Linked DNA regions of Homo sapiens. The protein of the gene in region 1 interacts with the protein of each later gene in a biochemical or structural test. Each region holds a gene or a part of one and is shown in the gene's direction. Other genes may lie near its edges.

Evidence for each region.
Region 2: the proteins of RARA (region 1) and POU2F1 form a complex in vitro, tested with the Homo sapiens proteins (one study listed by BioGRID).
Region 3: the proteins of RARA (region 1) and LRIF1 form a complex in vitro, tested with the Homo sapiens proteins (one study listed by BioGRID).

What each region holds. Positions count from the first base shown.
Region 1 is NC_000017.11:40,326,121-40,333,229, forward strand, and holds part of RARA (retinoic acid receptor alpha), read left to right. Parts: exon of another isoform or gene 1-1,364; intron 1,365-4,431; exon of another isoform or gene 4,432-4,491; intron 4,492-4,736; 5' UTR 4,737-5,098; coding exon 5,099-5,276; intron 5,277-7,109. UniProt on the Homo sapiens protein: Receptor for retinoic acid. Retinoic acid receptors bind as heterodimers to their target response elements in response to their ligands, all-trans or 9-cis retinoic acid, and regulate gene expression in various biological processes.
Region 2 is NC_000001.11:167,412,886-167,419,885, forward strand, and holds part of POU2F1 (POU domain, class 2, transcription factor 1), read left to right. Parts: intron 1-140; coding exon 141-229; intron 230-976; coding exon of another isoform or gene 977-993; exon of another isoform or gene 994-2,614; coding exon 2,615-2,925; 3' UTR 2,926-7,000. UniProt on the Homo sapiens protein: Transcription factor that binds to the octamer motif (5'-ATTTGCAT-3') and activates the promoters of the genes for some small nuclear RNAs (snRNA) and of genes such as those for histone H2B and immunoglobulins.
Region 3 is NC_000001.11:110,953,923-110,960,922, reverse strand, and holds part of LRIF1 (ligand-dependent nuclear receptor-interacting factor 1), read left to right. Parts: intron 1-7,000. UniProt on the Homo sapiens protein: Together with SMCHD1, involved in chromosome X inactivation in females by promoting the compaction of heterochromatin.

The sequences.
Region 1 (7,109 bases):
TCTCCCTCCTGGCCCCGTCAACAGATGTTGCCCTGGGTGGGGTGAGGCAAGGGAAAGCAGGCCGACTGCTGAGGGGCACCAAGGTGGTGGCAAGAGGCATGGGGATGGAGGGCTCCAGTTGCCCGGGCCTCCCCTGTGCCAAGCTCTGGTCTGGGTGCTTTCCAGGACTTCCTGTCTGAAATCGCACAGCTCGTTGTTGAGGTAGGCAGTTCACAGGCGAGTAAACAGATGCTTAGAGAGGTTAAGTGACTTGCGTAAGGTCACCCAGAGTGGCAGAGCTGAGATTTGACCCTTCCGACTTCTGGTTCTTTCTCCCATCTTCGTGGCTCAGAAAGCTCTCACCTTTTTCTCTAGGTGTGTGACTCTGGGGTGTAACGCGTGGGCAGCTAGGGATGCTGATGCTGGAGAAGGGATCCTGGCACCTTCTGAGGGTGAGAGCGGCCCCAGTGGGCAGGAGTGTGGGGCTGGTTGCAGGTGCTCTAGCCCCCTACCCCTTTTTCTGCTGTGCTTAGGCTAGGCTCCATATATTGGAGGTGTGGGCCTGTGGTTTTCTCTCTCTCAGGGGAGGGTGCCCGTGGGCAGTGGAGGTGGCTGGCATAGGGTGGAGGTTGGATGTGGGTAGTTTGTTTTCCCTCTCTTTGGTACTGGTTTCGATTCTCTGCCGAGGCCTTCTCCACCCCTGGGGTGTAGGGGGCTGGGGCCCAGGTGTCTCTCTGAGGGTCATAGCTTCTGATGGACCTTCTGAGGCAGAGTCTGTGCCCTTTTGGGCCCACCCTGGTCATCCCTACCCTTGCCCATCCCTGTTCTCTGGTCTTTCTGGCCCTTGGCCTATTTCTGTGACCTTTAGCCCTCCTGCGGCTCAAGGCCCTCCCCAGGGAGCTGAGTAAATTTGCACTGAAATTTGCAGGCAGAGCTGGGTTAGGCTTTTTGGAGGCTCTGATAGGGGTCTGGGGAGGCCTTCCAGCCTTGCCCTGTAGTGTGTGTGGGTGGTGGGCTGGGGGTGAGGTGGGGGTAGTGGGGATTGAAGTTTGATTCAATTTCAAACTCCACTGGGGCAGAGTTGAGGTGGCTGTGGTTTTCTCTTCTCTGGGAGCAAGGGTGGGTTCCAGAGGGTCCAGGCTGGACTGACTAAACTGGCCTCCCGACCCCCAAAGGCTGGGTCAGGATGCCTGAGATCTGGAGTGATGGCTTTCTGGGCCTCAGCGTGGGTTACAGAGGCCTCACTTTGGGTTAGCTGCCCCTTGGGCCTCACCTTGAGAGAGGCAGGCCTCTGTGGATGTGAATTCACCTGAGTGTTTGTGGACCTGGTGCATGGGCTGGGCCCACAGGGAGGACCTCAGAGCATCTTCTGGCAGAAGCAGCAGGTACAAGGGCCACCCTGGCTGTGTGAGGTTCGGAGAATGTACAGTTTGGGAGACTGTGGGGCTGTGGTTGTGTCTTTGGGGAGCTGTGTACTGGGGCCCATGCATGCAGTTTCTGAGCTGTGTTCATTGTGTGGTGGAGCCCAGGTGTGGAGAGATGGTATCTCCAGGTTCCTTCTCCTCACATGCATGCCTGCACACACACAGGCTGGGGCTGCAGGCGTGCTCTTGCCCACCCAGATGTTTTCTGTAGACCTGCATGCATGAGTTTGTATGTGTATTTGTGTGTGAGGGTCCAACTGTAGGAACTGATGAGGTTCTGCCAGCCTCTTCTTCCCTTGCATGGCTCCCCCAGCTCCAGTTCCCGTTGTGTGGGGCCCCACAGGAGTTGGGAGGGGGCCAGGGCGGCAACTGGTCCAGTGGGTGGGGCCCCTGTTCCTCTGACATCAGCCCTCTCAGCCTAGGAGGGAATTGGCAGGGGCCTGGGGTAGGAAGGGAGCTCTTTATTCAGGAGTGAGGAGAGAGGCCCTATGATTGTCATAATGAGTAACAGTAAAAATCGTGGTTATTAGCAAGGTCCAGATTTTACTCCTGGGGCAGCCTCCCCTCCCTAGCCCAGTACCTGTCCCCTCCCACCCTCTCTCCCTCAGTTCCACACAGGCTGGCTGGCTCAGCTGGGCCAGAATTCCTGGCCTCTTCCACAGTGGCCTTGGCAGGAACTCCCCCTTCCCAGGCCTGGTCTTCAACCAAATGCTGGCCATGTGCTTGTCCCCTGGACTCCAGATTTGAGGCTAGAGTCTGGAGTTCAGAGCTTGGAACCTAGTGTAGCCTGAGCTTGGGGTGGAGTGGCAAGGTATAGGGGGTGTTGGAAATGGACAGTCCTTATTTTGAGTCTCTGTGGCCCTGTTTCTTTTCTTTCTTTCCTCTTCTTTTTAAAACAGCTTTATTGAGATATAATTCACATACCATAAAATTTACCCATTAAAGTGTACAATTCAGTGGTTTTAGTATATTCAGAGTTGTGCAACTACCACCACAATCAATTTTAGAACACTTTCATCACCCCAGAAAGAGCCCCCATACCCAGCAACAGTCACTTCCCATATTCCTCAAATCCACGCCCCAGCTCCTGGTAACCACAAGTCTGCTTTCTGTCTCTATAAATGTGCCTATCCTGGATATTTCATATAAATGGAATCCTACAATACATGGTCTTTGTAACCGGTATAATGTTTTCAAGGAATATCCATATCATAGTATCAGTACTTCATTCTTTTTTTGGCAGAATAATGTTCCATTGTAGGGACATACAACATTTTATTTATTCGTCAGTTGATGGACTTTTGGGTTGATTCCACTTTTTGACTATTAGGAATAACGCTGCTGTGAATGTTCATGTATAAGTCTTTCTGTGGACTTACGTTGTCATATCTCTTGGGTAGATACCTAGGAGTAGAATTGCTGGGTCATATGCCATCGCTGTGTTTAACCTTTTGAGGAACTGCCAAACTGTTTTCCAAAACAGCTATTCTATTTTACATTCCCACCAGCAATATATGAGGATTCCAATTTCTCCACATCCTCGCCAGTACTTGTTATTATCTGTCTTTCTTATTAGAGCTAGCCTAGTGGGTATGAAGTGGTATCTCATTGTGCTTTTTTTTTTTTTGAGATGGAGTCTCACTCTGTTGCCCAGGCTGAAGTGCAGTGACACAATCTCGGCTCACTGCCTCCCAGGTTCAAGCAATTCTCGTGCATCAGCCTCCTGAGTAGCTGGGATTACAGGCATGTGCCACCACGCCTGGATAACTTTTGTATTTGTGTGTGTGTTTTTTTTTTTTTGGAGACGGAGTCTTGCTCTGTTACCCATGCTGGAGTGCAATGGTGTGATCTCAGCTCACTGCAACCTCCACCTCCCTGGTTCAAGCGATTCTCCTGCCTCAGCCTCCCAAGTAGCTGGGATTACAGGCACCTGCCACCATGCGCAGCTAATTTTTTAGTAGATTTTTGTATTTTTTAGTAGAGATGGGGTTTCGGCATGTTGGTCAGGCTGGTCTCAAACTCCTGACCTCAGGTGATCCACCTGCCTCAGCCTCCCAAAGTGCTGGGATTATAGGTGTGAGCCACCGCACCCAACTGACTTTCGTATTTTTAGTAGAGACAGGATTTTGCCATGTTGGCCAGGCTGGTCTTGAACTCCTGACTTAGGTGATCTACCTGCCTTAGCCTCCCAAAGTGGTGGGATTACAGGCGTGAGCCACCGCCCCCAGCCTCATTGTGCTTTTGATTGGCCATGTTTCTTTTTGTCTGTCTCTTTTCTTTTGTCTTTCATATATGTATTTTTCATATATAAATACATGCATATGTATTTATATATAACCTGTACCCAAAATGGATTTGAAACATCCTCTTGTCCTCGTATGGATATGTTCTTCGTGTTCTCTCTCTTTGCTCTTGTTGCTGCCTATCTGTCTCACTGTGTTATGGAATCTCTGGGTTCATCTCTGTCTCTGTCTCTACCCCATGGTATTATCTGTGCATATCCTCTGGTGCCAGCTGTTCAAACAGGGTGTGGATCTGTATTCACACTGGTGAAGGGGGCATCTGGCCTTTCATCTTCTGCCCACCTCCCACCCCAGTTCATGTGTTTTGCTTCTGCAGACAGAAGTATGTGGGTGAACCTTGAGATCAATCTCTCCTTCATTGCCTGGGGGTAGGAGGCTTCCTGGGCGGTCCTTGCCCTCCTACACATCGCCTACCCCTGGACCATCCATGCTGTTAAGCATTGGAGGTGATACCTAGGAGTCCTTGGTTCCCATTTTCCTATTAGTGTGTACGTAAATGGGCCTCCTCCCAGGGCCTGTGGGACAAACCCGTCTGGGGTGCTGGGGCTTGGATCTGGGGGGGAAGTGGTGTAAGAGGGGCCCCCTGGCTTAGGAGTCATTTTTCTGAGAAGTGCCAATGCTTTAGGGAAGCGGCTTTTCCTCCCCCTCCCTCTTCCCCCCCAGCACACGTTCTCTGCATCTTGACCTCAGGTAACCCTCACTGGGGGAAGGAGGGCCAGCTGCCCGTTTCTGCTGCAGTGATCCCTTGAGGTGGCACTGTGGACCCTTTCCCCTCAGGACTGTGGGTGAGAGGCCCTCCAAGGTTCTGGGCTCTGTCCCTGTCTCCCCAGCCTGGCTGTGCTATCTGCCACCCCCAGCAGTGTCTGGGCCCTGCTTCCAGGTCATCTCTGCCAGCCAGGCATGGTGCCAGCTGTCTGCTCAGCTGGGTGCCACGGGAAAATCTCCGGCAGCCCAGGTTGGGGAGCTCCACGGGGAATGCCTGTGTGCCTGTTCTTCAGTGCCCACTCACCTGTCTTTCTTTTTTCTGCAGCATCACAGGACATGGCCCCCTCAGCCACCTAGCTGGGGCCCATCTAGGAGTGGCATCTTTTTTGGTGCCCTGAAGGCCAGCTCTGGACCTTCCCAGGAAAAGTGCCAGCTCACAGAACTGCTTGACCAAAGGACCGGCTCTTGAGACATCCCCCAACCCACCTGGCCCCCAGCTAGGGTGGGGGCTCCAGGAGACTGAGATTAGCCTGCCCTCTTTGGACAGCAGCTCCAGGACAGGGCGGGTGGGCTGACCACCCAAACCCCATCTGGGCCCAGGCCCCATGCCCCGAGGAGGGGTGGTCTGAAGCCCACCAGAGCCCCCTGCCAGACTGTCTGCCTCCCTTCTGACTGTGGCCGCTTGGCATGGCCAGCAACAGCAGCTCCTGCCCGACACCTGGGGGCGGGCACCTCAATGGGTACCCGGTGCCTCCCTACGCCTTCTTCTTCCCCCCTATGCTGGGTGGACTCTCCCCGCCAGGCGCTCTGACCACTCTCCAGCACCAGCTTCCAGTTAGTGGATATAGCACACCATCCCCAGCCAGTAAGTCTGGGTGTGGGGGCTGGGGTGGGAAGGGACTGTGGAGGGTGGCAGGCCTCAGAGCTTGGGCTCTGGGCACGTCTGTTCTGCTGTGAGTGGAAGGCACGGTGAGCGACAAGGTCTTCTCCAGTTGGGGTGACCATCATTTGAGGTCTTAAAAATGAAAGCCCTATGGCCTATAGGCTGATCATGGTGGTTGTGTTTGAAGTTGGGGGTGGCAGAGGGGGAGATGAAACCATGCTGTTCTGGCCTGCAGTGGCCCTCGCACCCCTCTTCTGTGCTCTGCTGTTGGGGCCTTATAAATAGCTCCAAGGACTGGACACACAGGTTGGAGGTGGGTAAACAAACCTCTTGACATTTGATGGAAATGGCAGCTCTACCTAGAGTGAGAGCAGCACACCACCTACGCCCCACCCCCACTCAGTGCCTCTGAGGGAAAGGGCTTGAAGGAGCAGACCGAGGAAGGCTGGCTGGAACCCCACCTCTCCCCCTGCCAGCTCCACCCCCGGCCATGCTAGGATGTGCTTCCCTTTGTGGGGAGGATGAGAGGGAGGGGCCCACGGTCTAGCTGGGTGGATAGGGTGAGTGTCCCAGGAGGGGACACTTGGCCTGGACTCTGGCCTCGGACGCATGCATGGTCTTGGCAGGGCCTGTGTTTTCCTTGCCTCCACCCTCTGCCATGGAGGTCACTTGTTGGCTGGGCAGGGGTCTCAGTACCCTTCGCCGGCTGGCCGAGCCAGGTAGTGGGAGGTGGCGGCAGCTCTGGCCAGCTGGCAGAGTCCAGGGCTGGGGCCTGCCAGGCCGCTTACAGTAACTCTGGCCCCCAGGGCCCAGCTGGGCGCCAGGCCAGGGCTGGGGGGAGGAGGGAGCCGGGGCCTGGCCTGGGACGGGAGAGGGTGGAAGCAGCAGAATGGGCCATGGGCTGCTGGCTGGCCGGCTGGTCAGCTGCTGACCTGGGAAACGTGTCCCCACCTCTCCTGGCCAGCAGGGACTGCACACCTTGCCCTGTGCACCCACCACCCCTCTCACGGCTGCTGGCAAGCTGCCTGGCACCACTGCCCTATGTGCCTGGCTGGGCTGGGTCAGTGCCCCCTTCTCAGTGTGGGGGCAGCGCTCTCTCCCCGGAGCCAGGGAGTCTCTTTGTCCCTGGGGCAGGCCCTGGCTGGGCGCCTCACTGCCCGCACTGGCTGGGTGCCCACCACCACCACTGCTTCCTGGATCGCCTCCTCTGGCTTAGCTGTGGCCCCCTCCCTCCCAGGCTCCACCAGCCACCAGGAGCAGGGACTCTATGTCTGTGTTTCTTTGTGTTCCCCGCCCTTTATGCCCTGGGGCCAGGGGGCAGGCAGGTGCTGCCTCAGTTTCTCCTGCCACCCCTTATCAAACCTTCATCTTCTGTTTCTGCTGTCTCTTCTCTCCACCTCATATAGGAGTATGGGATGGATGGAGTCTGGGGACTCTGATTCTGGTCTGGTCCTATAGTCTGTGTTAGTGATGGGGAGAGGCCAGCCTCTGGGGTTTGGGGCTACTAGGGAATGCATTGGTGTATCTTTGTAGAATATTCACTGCATTTAAAGGGACTGTGATTTACATTCTGGACTTGGATCACTGGAACTAGAAGACTGTCTGCTTCCTGACAGGGTAGGGTTTTATTTTTATTTATTTATTTATTTTTTTGAGACAGAGTCTTGCTCTGTCACCGAGGCTGGAGTGCAGTGGTGCGATCTCGGCTCACTGCAACTTCCGCCTTCCGGAATCAAGCAACTCTTCCGCTTCGGCCTCCCATGTAGCTGGGACTACAGGCGTACGCCACCATGCCCGGCTACTTTTGGTATTTTT
Region 2 (7,000 bases), on another chromosome or scaffold:
CCATAGAAGAGTAAAGAAAAATAAATATTTCCACCTATTTCCCCAGCTGGATTTTCGTTTTGTAAGTTCCTTTTGGTGTGTTGTCAAAATGAGACCTGCGTCTGCATGGTAATAAAGTGACTCCTCTTTTGGACTTGCAGAGGTGCCTTACTCAGTCTGAATCCAGGGACCCTGAGCGGTGCTCTCAGCCCAGCTCTAATGAGCAACAGTACACTGGCAACTATTCAAGGTCAGTAGAAGCCTTTTTCTTAATTTGGTGGCATGCACGTGTGTGTGAGTGTGTGTGTGTGTGTGTGTGTGTGTGCTTGAGACAGAGATAGAGGAAGTCTGCTTTGCTAGAGGTAAAAGTGATGGGAAAGAGTCAAATGCTGACTAACTTGTTCTTGAGAACTAAGAAAATGTCCTCGTAAAAAAGCTTTGTAAGAAAAGTATAGGTGTTAGTATGTGAGTAAAAGCAGGAAATATACTTAGTTTGGTATATGGTAAAAAACCAGAACTTTCATGCTAATATTGATCTTATGTGAGTAGACTTGAAGCCAGATTTTTTTCCCCTGATAAGTTTATCCCAAGTATTAATCTAAAACCCGTCTCTAGGCAAACTTGACCAAGTAAGACTCTCCAGTTCCCAGCTGCACTCCTGAGAAAGCTGTGCATGGGAAAGTCCTGTAATGAACAAACATTGGAACACATCAGGTGGACCTCAGGAGTGCTTTTAATTCTCATTAAGTTCTGCTCTTTTTATATCGCCGTTAGTGTAGAACATATATTCTCTTGGATTATAATGTCTCTTTTCCAAGCTCAGCTGGGTTCCTTTTGCCTTTTAGCATGTTACCCAGGGCAATATTCATTCCATATACTGAAGGGTTCCACTTGTTTAGTACCTAAGCTTTCTGTCTAAAAATGTTTACTGTTATGTGATTCAGGGAGACAATTTGAGAGACATCACTAATTAATTAGAATTTTTTTCTTAAAATAGTTTTGCTAAGAGGCTGAGGCAGGAGGATCACTTGAGGCCATGAGTTCAAGACTGCAGTGTGCTATGATCATGCCTGTGAATAACCATTGCACCCCAGCGTGGGTAACACAGTAAGACCCTGTTTCTAAAAAAAAAAAAAAAAAATTAAAGTGTTTTGTGCATAAATGAGAATTCTCAGGGCCAAAAATAACTATTAGCCAACCTAAATTAAGATTAATATTTCACAGGTAATATCTCTAACAGTGTACTAGAGAATGTTAATTACAGACAAAACCAAACCATGGCCTAGATTACCTTACATTATATTGACTTTCTGATTGACTAAATCATACCTGAATTGGTTAGCTCTAAAGCTTTTGTTATATAATAATTTTTTTTTGCAATAGAATTTGTGATAAATCACTTTTTCTTCTGCTTTATTGAATGTTTCTGTGCTGTGTTGATACTACAAAGGCAAAATGTCTTCCCTAGGGCATGATTGACACTCTGAAAAGATACTAAGTTTGGAATCTCAGAAAAACTTCAAGCTGCACTGTCTCACTGTTCTGTACTATTTGTATGAGCAAGGCCAAAGTCAGAGGCATTCCCTTCAGCTATATTTTATGTAAGAAATCAAATGTGTAATGCCGTTAGAAAATCCCTCAAATCTACATGTAGGAGTGAGGTTATATGGCTAGAGAGATTTAGGAATGTTGCCAGACAACAGGTTGAGATACTAAATGAGAGTCTCGATTATTTTAAATAAAATGTTGATGATGCCTTCTTTGGGGAAGCAACAGCATCATAGAAAATTTCTCACCCATTAAAGCACATCCTAGACTTAGATCACCCACCTACATCATTATGTCTAATTTCCTGCTACAATAGATTCATCATTCTCCTTTGCACAAGTCATAGAAATCAAGTATTTAGCCTCAGGAAGTGAGAAATTAATTATACCTTTTAACTTTATTTGGTGATACATAATTTATTTTAGAACTAAAGCCTTTTTGCAAGATGATTTTCATCTTGTATATCATAATATAAAGCAGTGGTCCCCAACCTTTTTGGCACCAGGGACTGGTTTTCTGGAAGACAGTTTTTCCATAGCCACATTGTGGTGGCGTGGTTTCTGGATGACACTGTTTCCACCTCAGATCGTGCTCTATGAGAATCTAATGCCGCCACTGATCTAACAGGAGGCAGGCCTCAGGCTGTAATGCCCACCACTCACCTCCTGTTGTTAATGCTTTAATCACTTCAGCTAGTTTGTCCTTTGAACAGAGGTAGTTTAAAATCAGCAGTCTTCATTAAAGACAAAATTATTGGATTTATCAAATATGTCTAGGTAAATGAAATAAACTGGTGATTTCAAGACACGAACATGACTCTAATTCATTAGACAGTTATTAGCTGTCTTCTACCCCTGCTTGTGCCCATTAAATTAGACATTTCAGTCTTTTAGGCTCTTCAAAATTAAAAATAAACTACAATTGGTATCAATATAGCACTGTGTTTGAGGAAAAAAATTCAGTGAAGGGCTATACTTTTTCCTGGTGGGTTGTAGGAAAATGATAGACTTTTGATGTGTTATTTGGCTTCTCCAGGATGATGTTAATGTTTTCATTCCTGCCTGTTTTGGGGGGTTTTTGTCTGTAGCTCTTGCTTCTGGTGGCTCTCTTCCAATAACATCACTTGATGCAACTGGGAACCTGGTATTTGCCAATGCGGGAGGAGCCCCCAACATCGTGACTGCCCCTCTGTTCCTGAACCCTCAGAACCTCTCTCTGCTCACCAGCAACCCTGTTAGCTTGGTCTCTGCCGCCGCAGCATCTGCAGGGAACTCTGCACCTGTAGCCAGCCTTCACGCCACCTCCACCTCTGCTGAGTCCATCCAGAACTCTCTCTTCACAGTGGCCTCTGCCAGCGGGGCTGCGTCCACCACCACCACCGCCTCCAAGGCACAGTGAGCTGGGCAGAGCTGGGCTGCCAGAAGCCTTTTTCACTCTGCAGTGTGATTGGACTGCCAGCCAGGTTAATAAACTGAAAAATGTGATTGGCTTCCTCTCGCCGTGTTGTGAGGGCAAAGGAGAGAAGGGAGAAAAAAAAAAAAAAACCACACACACCCATACACACATACCAGAAAAAGAAAGAAAGGATGGAGACGGAACATTTGCCTAATTTTGTAATAAAACACTGTCTTTTCAGGATTGCTTCATGGATTGGAGAACTTTCTAACCAAAAATTAAAAAAAAAAAAAAAAAAAGAAACAAAAAAATCAAAAACAAACAAAAATAAGTGAAAGGACTACTTATCATTTCCAGCAGTCATGATGACAAGTTAAGGTGGGTTACCAATTCCAATATAGGAAGGGGATTTCTTGTTTGTCTAAATTTCTTTTTTTCTTAAAAAAAAAAAATCATTTTTATGGGTCTGTTGTACAGGCCATTAAGTCATAACAAGGTGTTTATAATCGTATCAATTGTGTTGGGGGTTCCTTTCTTAACTGGTACAATTTAGGCAGGCCTGTATTACTGTATTATTATTGTTGTTGTTGTTATTGTTTTATATATATAGTTTGGACATGTTTATTATCTCTTGCTCCTGGATCCTATTTCAGTGAGCTCCCACACTGTGGGGAGGGAGGGTTTTGGGGTAAGGGGAGACTTCTGTTCTTAACTGTGGGGAATGTTCTTGCTGGTTTCCTTATCCTTGATGACTCTTACAGAGGTGCTAGAAAATTATTTTCTTTTGCCACTTATGCAAGAGGCTTGGTGCAGAAGCTGAAGGCAGTGTGTGCAAACACTCCCATTCCACACACGCCCCTTCCCCTCCCCACATCAGGTGGTGCCTTTGGAGCACTTTTGTGTAGGAAGGAATTCCTGCTGAACTGTAGCTCTCACTCACCCCCAAATCATTGAATGACCCTGAGGCCCAGTTCCTGTGGTGCAACAGTGCTGCTTTCTGCTACTTTCAATGGGAACAGCTGTACATGTTGCAGGGCAGGATTTGGTTCCCAAGAGCAAAGACTACTGCAGACACCTGACTTGGTGGTTCTCCTGATTTCTTATCTCCTGAAAAATGCTCCTGCTGTTGGTGTGTTTGTTTGTTTGTTCCATTTTGTGGAAGTTTTTCATCCAAACTTTAACTAACTTGGCAAAGAAAAAAAACTGACTTACTGAAATTGGGAAACTTTTCCCTTCTTTTATTTTCTAAAGGAATTCTACTAGACTATTTTCCATTGATAATATATACAAAAGAGGTGTGATGAGAAGGGTATAAGGTTACCACCTTTTCCTCTAGAGAGCCACAGACTTCCTTTCCACTGGATGGTTTATAAATTCCTCTAACCCTGAGATTCTTCTTGGTTCTCTGACTAAAGGAGGCACTTATTAGCCGGGCTGGGATCTGTAGAACCTTTGAAGAAGGACTTTGAGCAGGAACTTTGCACACACCTTAAGTGTCTCCTTGGTTTGTTCATGATGCTCCTGCTAGGTAGGTCTAAATGGCAATACACATCTCTTTATTCAATGTAGAAAGTAATTAGCTCTGTAATTATTTTCAGGGTGTTTGTAGACTATATAAATGAGCCCATTGAAAAGGAAGAGTTTGTGAAAGTGGATGAAGAGGAATAAGGGTAACTTGGAGATTAAATTCCTTTTTTTGTCAGTGTACTGTTGTTATGCCATCTGTACCAAAAAATTTTCCAAAAGACTGGATCACTGCAGTGCAGCTCATCTAAGTTCCCCTTCTTATTGGAGTTAAAGGTTCCCATTTGGTGGCTGTGGGTGCTTGCTTAAATCTCTGGTGGTCCCAAGACTGCACTTTTTCTCCCTTTCGAGCTGGGGATGTAGAGAGAACTTACAGGTGATTTTTATTCTGATTGCTTTTGTTTGTGTCCACAAGGGAGCTTGGATTCTGTGTACTTGTCTCTTTCCCATTGTCCAGTAAGGCAGTAAATACAGACACAATGTGTACTTTTGTGTGTGATTCAAGTGGGAGACAGTCTGTTAAAAGGTCAGAAACATTTTAGTCCCCTTTAAAATATTTCTTTTAGTTTATTTCTATCGTGTTTTATTTCACAGATATTTAATTACCACCCCTAAATTTCCTCCTCTTACCCTTCACCTTCCCTAAAATCCTTCCAAAATCAGTGAACTGCAAGCAGGGAAACTAACAAATGTCCATTCACCCTTTTTGTGTGGTGTGTTTTTTTATGTTTTGTTTTGTTTTTTAACTAAGCTTGAACCAAAGTCAATTTTTAGCAAGCTGCTGTACTAATGGACTAGTTGATAACGTGCAGTTCAGACACATCGAGGAGATAGATGCTACTGACAATTTCTTTTTCATTTGTCTTTATTAATTTTATATGAAAGTTGCTGCTTGTTTTTAATCTTTTATGTTGGTAAATTGTGATATCCTCTGGGCAGACATTAACTTGATGTTTAACTAGTTTATTAGGTTGGTGTGTAAATAGAATGACAATGTCAATTACTAATTTCTCTCCTCTCCATTCACTTTTTCTCTGTTGTAGTTAAATTTAATCTTCTATCCTGACTTGACATCTCTACCTTTAGTCTGTGGAAATGATTTTAGGGCTATCAGTAATGCTGTAGCTGCCCATAATAATGAGTCCCTCCCTTGGGAGTGGTGAAACTTAGAAGGAAGGATTCAGGGAGGGAAATGCTGGTACCCAGTATACTGGATTAGAAGTTATAGCATTAATTTCTCAAAATTGCTACCAAAGGAAGTGTGGAGTCCCAAGGGACTCAAGCTCAGTGAGGTAAGACAAAGGGCAAGGAAAGGCTGTTTGGGTGGTTTTTTTTTCCCCACATATGGTTTAGAAAATGATCCCTTTCCCAAACAAAACTCACCAACAGACTTTAATATTAGAAAAGATACTAAGCTTTAAATGTCAATACAGTGGTCTTTTATTCCCTGCCCTGTCTATATTTTCTACTCAATTTGGGATAAGGGGATTTTATGTGAAGCACTTGATGAGGGTAGACCAGCATAAAAAATCTGTTTAAAAGAAGAAATAATCTTTAGGAAAAGATAAATCTTTAGATAAAAATAAATTTTTTTCTCTTTTTTTACTTATTTAAAAATAAGTTGTGAAATGAAAGGTACATTTACACATGTACACACGAAACACTAATATAGCTTTTTGGTGGTTGTTTAGTTTAAAATCAACTCCCTATCCATCATCCCTAGATATTCTACTTATCGTATTGCTTCATGAACACCTTAGTCATTTTTTACTTTACGTATATATTTTTTTATCATCTCAAGAAATGCATTTTGAATTGAATGAACTATCTTCTAAGCTAAGATACTCAAATTTAACTTTTAGCCACCTTATATGGGAGAGCCTGGAAACTAAAGGGGACCAGGGACCATTTGACCAAAAGAGGTGTTTGGTGGAGTTTCTGCATTTCAAAGAAGAAAGGCCAGATAGGTCATCACAATTCATTGTATTATTCTTTTTTTTTCCCCTTAATGTTTATGCAAATTTTATTTTATATTTCTGAATTTGGTTAGCACATACTAAGCCAAAGACTATTCTAAATGCATTTATAGTGAATACTATGTATGCCCATGGTAATGGGTCCTCCCTAAGGAGTGGTGAATGTAATTGTGTGAATCCTGCTTATCACAAGTGGTGCAATTTGGTCATAAACTTTATTTATACCCTGTATACATCTGAATAACAGAGCAGAAAGACCTAAAAAAGGGCTTCTCACAGGAACAATATTACTATGTTGTTCTAAGAAAAAATAAGTTGAGTGCTGTATTAGTTTAAGTGTTTCTAAAGTTCTATAGGCAGCATTTTAGAATTAAGAATTGTGTATATCCATTAACTGATATAATTCACATGTCCTTTTATTTGTTATCAGAAAGATCAATACTATCCCAATTTATTCAACTTGTTACCCAAGAAATGGAACCAAAGGAATCCAACTTTCATTTTGTGTAGAATCATACCTACTTATACTTAATGCTAGCACTGTAAGAAATAAGTCTTTTTTGTTTAAAAAAGGGAAG
Region 3 (7,000 bases), on another chromosome or scaffold:
AGACTGACACAGGTGTACATTTTAGATAACGTTGGCAGTCTGGATTTGAGGGTGAGTGATCTACATATAAGGATCCTATTTCAGTTGTCTTTTCAGAAATTCTGAGGGCCTGAACTAGCTGGTACAGTACAGTAGGGGTTGGATTCAAAGAAATATAGAAGGGAAAATAGACCGACTTCGTTAATGAATTGGCAGGAAGAAAGGGGGATCAATTATGATGCCAGTTTTCTGGGTGGATATTGGTAAATTAACTGAGATGAGGAACACATCAAGAAAGCAGTCAGATATTTGAATATGAAACTCAGGCTGAGTCAGAGCTGAGACTAGAGATTTGGGAAGCATCACCTTAGAGGTACTATAATGAAAGCCTGTGATTATATATCCTACAATAATAAGAATTAAGACATCATGTGATTGGCCATTGGCAGCTATCTTCCCATAACCATTTGTATTCAAATGGGGAGCTAAACTTAAGTGTTCTCAGCAGGGGGTTTGGTTTGACTGGAATGATGATGCTTCATTGTCAGTTCAGTATGCATTTTGTTGTGTACAGTGTTTTATTTTGTGATTTGAGTGTGTCTGTGTGTGTGTGAGGGAGAGACAGACACACATACTATAGAGTCTAAATGAAATCTGTCATTAATCTCTTAGTTTATACATTTGAATTTTTTGGACCCTGTTATAATGGGGTTATGCTAAAGTAAATATAGAAAGTAGATAAGCTTTCTCAAGGGGAGTGTGTAATTCTAAGTAAGTTATTAAATGTTTCCAAATCTCCATTTTCTCAAGTATAAAATGGGAATGGCAGTTCATAACTTTCTTGACTGTTTATTAGGATTAGAGTTAGTAACAACTGGTATATCTATCATGTACGCAATACATGGTACATATTATTGGATAGATAACTATGTTATGTACTTAGATATATTATGTTCTATATGTATATAATGTTATGTCATAGATAGTAAGAAAAGGATTTCCTAGCAGTTGAAAAAAATATATTTTGCAAAAATATCTATAAAATGTTCATCAGCCTTCAACATTTTTATTAGTCTATTTCTAATATATGAATGCCTCATATCAATATTAGAATAGTAAAAAATGTCAGAAGTTATATAACATTACCAATATGTTTAATGTGCCTTTTTATTAAATTTCTCATTCTTTTTTTTTTTTTTTTTTTTTTGAGATGGAGTCTCGCTCTGTCGCCAGGTGGAGTGCAGTGGCTCGCTGCAACCTCGACCTCCTGGGTTCAAGTGATTCTCCTGCCTCAGCCTCCCAAGTAGCTGGGACTACAGGCGTGTGCCACCACGCCCGGCTAATTTTTGTATTTTTAGTAGAGACGGGGTTTCACCATGTTGGCCAGGATGGTCTCGATCTCTTGACCTCATGATCCGCCCACCTCAGCCTCCCAAGGTGCTGGGATTACAAGCATGAGCCACTGCACCCGGCCATATTTCTCATTACATTTTTAAAAGACCTTATCTTACCTTATTCTCAGAGACCAATTGCATATTTTAATGGAAGATGATAACTGTTATGCTCCCAGGCAGTTATTTCATTTACTTCTCCTAGTAAGCTTTATTTTCCCCTATTTAACAAATGAAGAAACAGATTCAAAGAGGATAAGTACATTTTCTAGTCAACTTGTAATTATAAGAACCAGAATTAGTAGCCTGTAATCTTTCTAATATGTTCCTCTTTTCTCTTTTAAACTGTTAAACTGTATTATTTTTCAAATGTAGTTTCTCAGTTTGAACACCAGCTGGTTTAAAGTAATTACTTTAAAGTAATTAGGTGACCAGACTAGAAAATGGGATGCAGAATCTGGTTCTAGTTTTAGTTCTGACATTAGCCCGCAGAATATGATCTTTCAGAAAACAGAATCTTTGTAGGACTTTAATTATTTAATCTCTTCAATGGAAGGCTCCTTCTAGATATGAAAAACTGTATATTGATAGAAGGAGTACGAATTTCATCCTGAGTTATTACTTCTTAGCATTCTGCAGATTAATTTTTAGAACTCATTACATTTTGTTGCCAAGAAATCATGGATTTTTAAAAAAATTATACCTTGTAGGATTCAATTCAGCTAACATTATTGTGTGCAATTTCCAGTTTCTGAATTAGATGCGGAGTATATAGATATGAATAGGATAATCTACCCTGCAGGAATTTATGGTCTGTGGTAGATTATGTGACTCTCACTGATACACTGACATGGAAGAAGCTTAATTTTTCTTCCTTTTTTTTATTTTTTGGAGGTGAAATAGAGGAAAAGAGAGGGAAAAATTTAGTGATCAGATTGGAAAATAGCTCACACAGTATAGTTTTTTTTATAAAGCAGAAATATAGACATCATATAAAATACTATGCTTGGTATTGGAAGGATATTTGCAAAATAAATTATAAAGCCTCTCACCTTAAGGAGTTTCAGTCTTATTGAATGAAACAATACTCATTTTAAAAAATTAGCTAATAGATTAAAGTCAATAAAGAAAGCATTATATAATTTCCAACATTAATAGCACCAATGGGAGTACATTCGGGATTCCAAGTTGGAAGAAATTAAGCTGGAGTGACTGGCAGATATTTTATGGAAAAGATAGAATTGGAAACTAATTTTATATTGTTGGAGAAGAAAAATAATAATACTTTGAGTAAATAATGTAATATACATGGCATATTCCAGAATAGCAAAGAGATCTCTCTGGTAAGAGCAGAGATTTCACATTGAGAAGTTGTGGGTGGTATTGTTGTAGAGATTGGTTGGAGCTAGATTGTAGATGATTTTCGCGTCCAGCTGAATTGGCAATGATGAATACTAAAACTTTGAACAAGAGATAACAGGATGAAAACAATTTTAGTCTGCCAGAGATACATAATAGTCAATAGTGGCTGCAATCAGAAAAACAACATCAGCAAAATACTGTAGGGATGAGAATGATGAGTGCTAGACACATCTGATGAGGATCTCATGTAGATGGTGGAAGTCACAATGATGAAGAAAGAAAAGATGGATGAAATGGGTTAAAAAGAAAACCGTATAGACTTGATGATTCAGTATGCATTTATTAAATGTTTGCCTTTTGTAAGGACATATGCAAGGTTCTGTGGATGAATTTAAAGTAAATAAGAATGATGATAAAGACAAATCAGCAATGACTAGGTGATTTGAAACCTATATGATGTGGAAAATATTGGCGCTGCCATATGATTGAATGGTAGGATAGACTACTACTTTTCAATAGAGAGTAATTTTAACTTCGTAGATTTAAAGTGATGGGATTAAAATGTTTGGTAAGACATCACAAATATGGAACTGATGTCAATTCCAGTAGGGGACAGGAATAAAAGGATATAACTATGGGAGTCATTATTCCAAAGAAGATAGTTGAAAATAGTTGAAGCCGTGAGAATTGTTGCAGTCTTTTTTTTTTTTTTTTTTTTTTGAGACTGAGTCTTGCTTTGTCGCCCAGGCTGGAGTGCAGTGGCGCGATCTCAGCTCACTGCAAGCTCCGCCGCCTCCTCACTCCATTGTCCTACCTCAGCCTCCTGAGTAGCTGGGACTACAGGCGCTTGCTACCACGCCCGGCTAATTTTTTTTTTTTTTTTTTTTTTGTATTTTTAGTAGAGATGGGGTTTCACTGTGTTAGCCAGGATGGTCTCGATCTCCTGACCTCGTGATCCACCTGCCTCGGCCTCCCAAAGTGCTGGGATTACAGGCGTGAGCCACCGCACCTGGCGAATTGTTGCAGTCTTTAAGGAAGAATGTCTTGAAGGAGAAAAACAGGGTCAAGAAATGTGGGATAGTTAAAGGAGAATGCTTAGAATGCAGAAAATGAGTAAGGGAGCATTAGGAAAGTCAAGAGAAACAGAGGTTGTACACAGTGGAAACTATGATAGGTAAGAGGATCAATATGGAGGGATAATTAGTTGCAACAGAGAGGTACCTAGGGAATGAAGATAAAGACAAATTTAACTGTGAGAACATATTTGGTAATCTTTGAGAATGAAGTTTTAGTAGAATAATAGGAAAGAAAATAGACTGCAGAAGAAAGTAGGCTTCAAGATAACTTTCTGGCATATCACTTAATTGCAGCTTGTTAACACCATCTACCAACTTCCTGTCACTGAACTTGGCGCTTAGTTCACCATCTAGCTCACCATCTTCCCTCATGTGATTTCAATATCCGTATGGATAATCTCTTTGTCACCTCATCTTTATTACAGAGATCTTTTCCCCCAGTGATCTTATTCTCTGTTCTGTTGCACCTATCTACTTTTGTAGTACTTATTATTAGATGAAATTGCTGCATCTACGAAACTGTTTCACGCATCCTGTTTTCTAAATGCCAGTTCCTGTATTTCTAGCTGAGTTGTTTAACTGTTCCTACTGTAACTGTTAACTTTATCTGGCCCTACAGACCAATAATCCCTTTATTTTATCCCTATACTTTAGCCTTTTATTCTCTCATTTTCTTCCTATCCAGTTTAGACTCTGTTTCATTTTAATAACTCTTATCAATACCTTAAATTCTTTTGCTCTTCTTTGATTTTTTTGTTGCACCTTCCTGATGCCACCCCAACCCTGGATGAACTCAGTATGCTTTCTCTTTATCTGTGCTTGGTGTGACAAGAAAAATCTCGAGTACAGATTAGTACCACTATAAATTCATAACCACTACCTGTCTCCCCATGCCATCAACACATCCTGGCAACTCTAATATCTTCTGTGGTCAGTTTACTCCTTCACGAAGACTGTTCCAATCTTTGATTATCCTCAAATCTTTCCATATTTTTGCTCTTACTTTTAGCAGATGATGTCATGTGATTTTTCATAAAGAAAATAAAACCCATTAAATGAGAATTACCTCAGCCTCCTAACCCCAAAGTTGTATGCTTACCTGAAAATGCACATAATCTCTCCTCCAGTGTTGCAATGGAAGGAGATAGGTCTCCAGCTCTCTTTAAGGTTGAGTCCCTCCACCTGTCTCTCTGGTTTCCATTTCCTGCCTCCTTCTCATTGTGTATCCCTTTTGTTCCTTTATTACCAGTTTCTTCCCTGAACTGGCTCACTTGAGTATTTACATATGTTCTGGTTAATCTAACCTTAAACAAAGAAAAAGGAAAGATCCCTTCTTTGATTCCATTTATTCCTGTAGCTTCCTGCCAGTCGTTCTCTTCCCCTTGACAGTCAAAGTTTAAAAAGAGTTGTCTACTTGCTTCATACCCACTCCTCAGCAACTTCTTTCCCCTACCACACTGCTCTTATTAAAGCCATCAGTGATCTTCACAGCACTGTTTTCAGTGTACATTTTTAATCCTTATCCTATTTGGCATCTCAGAAACTTTTAGTATAATTGCCCAATTTTCTTAAAATCCTCTGTTCCTTTGGCTTAACATTGCATCAGAAGCAATGGTTTTCTTCCTACGACTCTAAGAATAATGGAAGGCCACTGCAATGTTTTAAGCAGGGAAAGATCAGTTTTAGTGTGCTGAGTAAATTGAAAGGTAGAAGATATGATTGGAGAAAAAAATCAGTCATGAAGCTATTGTAGTATTCTAAGCCAGAGATGATGTTTGCTTGGAGTAGAGTGGTAACAGTTGATTTGGAGAGAATTGAACAGATGAAAGGAAATTTAGGAGACAATATCAACAGGATTTTGTGATCACTGAATATAAGGAATAAGAAAGGAGGATTTATCTATTCTGACTTAAGGCACCTAAGGTAGATGAGATGCTATTTAGCAAAGAAAACCCTGCAGAAGATGGAACTTGGGGGGATTAGGATGGGCAGAGATCTGCTGGCCATGTTGAATTTTAGGAACGTTTGAGATTCTGAATGAAAATGTTAAAAGGGAATTTGGATGTATAAGCCTAAATTTCAAAGAAGCCACAGATAGAAATATTGAAATTGTTCATGCGTAAGTGATAATTTAATTGAAGTTATGCATTGAGAAGAAAGCATCTAACAAAAGAGTACAGAATAGGAAGAGAAGGATTCTTTCTAAGCTTTGGTAAACTCCCAACATTTGAAAGTTGATTCAAAAGTATGAGTTGGCAAAGAAGACTGAGGAGCCACTACAGAGGCTACTGTTACTCTTTTGATTTTTAAAAATCAATTAAAATATAAGAATGCACAGAAACAGAGTGGGCCAGATTAGGCCCAGAGGCTACAGCTTACTGACCCTTTTTTCCTGATGAGCCTGGTGCTTAACTTAAAACAGACACTTGGTAAATTTTTGTGTAATGACTTAATATTGAATATGTTCTTATCCAGGTCAAATGTGCTTTTCTTGTGGTGCAGGGAGGTAATAAAGGTAGATTTTTCCTCTTAAAACCCTGAAAGCAAGAATTCATCCTTTTCTTTGGGTTTATTCTCTTTAGAAGTTAACTTTTAATTTATTAAAAGTCAGTGTGTGACCAGCCTGGACAACATAGCAAAACTTTGCCTCTATAAAAAATACAAAAATTAGCCGGGTTTGGTGGCGTGCATCTGTGGTCTCAGCTACTTGAGAAGCTGAGGTAGAAGGATAGCTTGAGCCCAGGAGGTGGAGATTGCAGTGAGCCAAGATTGTACACCTACACTCCAGTCTGGATGACAGAGCCGGGCCCTGTCTCAACAGCAACAATAACAAAATGTCAATGTAATATTTTGACCCACTCTCACGTGTCCAAAAGACTTTTAAATTTTTGTAAGGATATAATAATGTTATTCGGGCTGCAGAAAGGTAAACCAAATTTCTACGGATACATAGAATTTTGGGTATTGATTTTTATTAATACCTGAGAGTTTTAAAAACATACCTTTATGCTTTTGAGAATCCTAATTATTATCGTTATTATTTGCCCTTGAACTTTTGTATTTATTTGATCTTAGTTATCTAAGACCATGCTAGGTCTATGGTATATGGATGCTGCACTCATATTGGTAGAATATAATATGAGAGACAGTCTATAGACAAACATATTAATATATGATGACAATCTATGATAT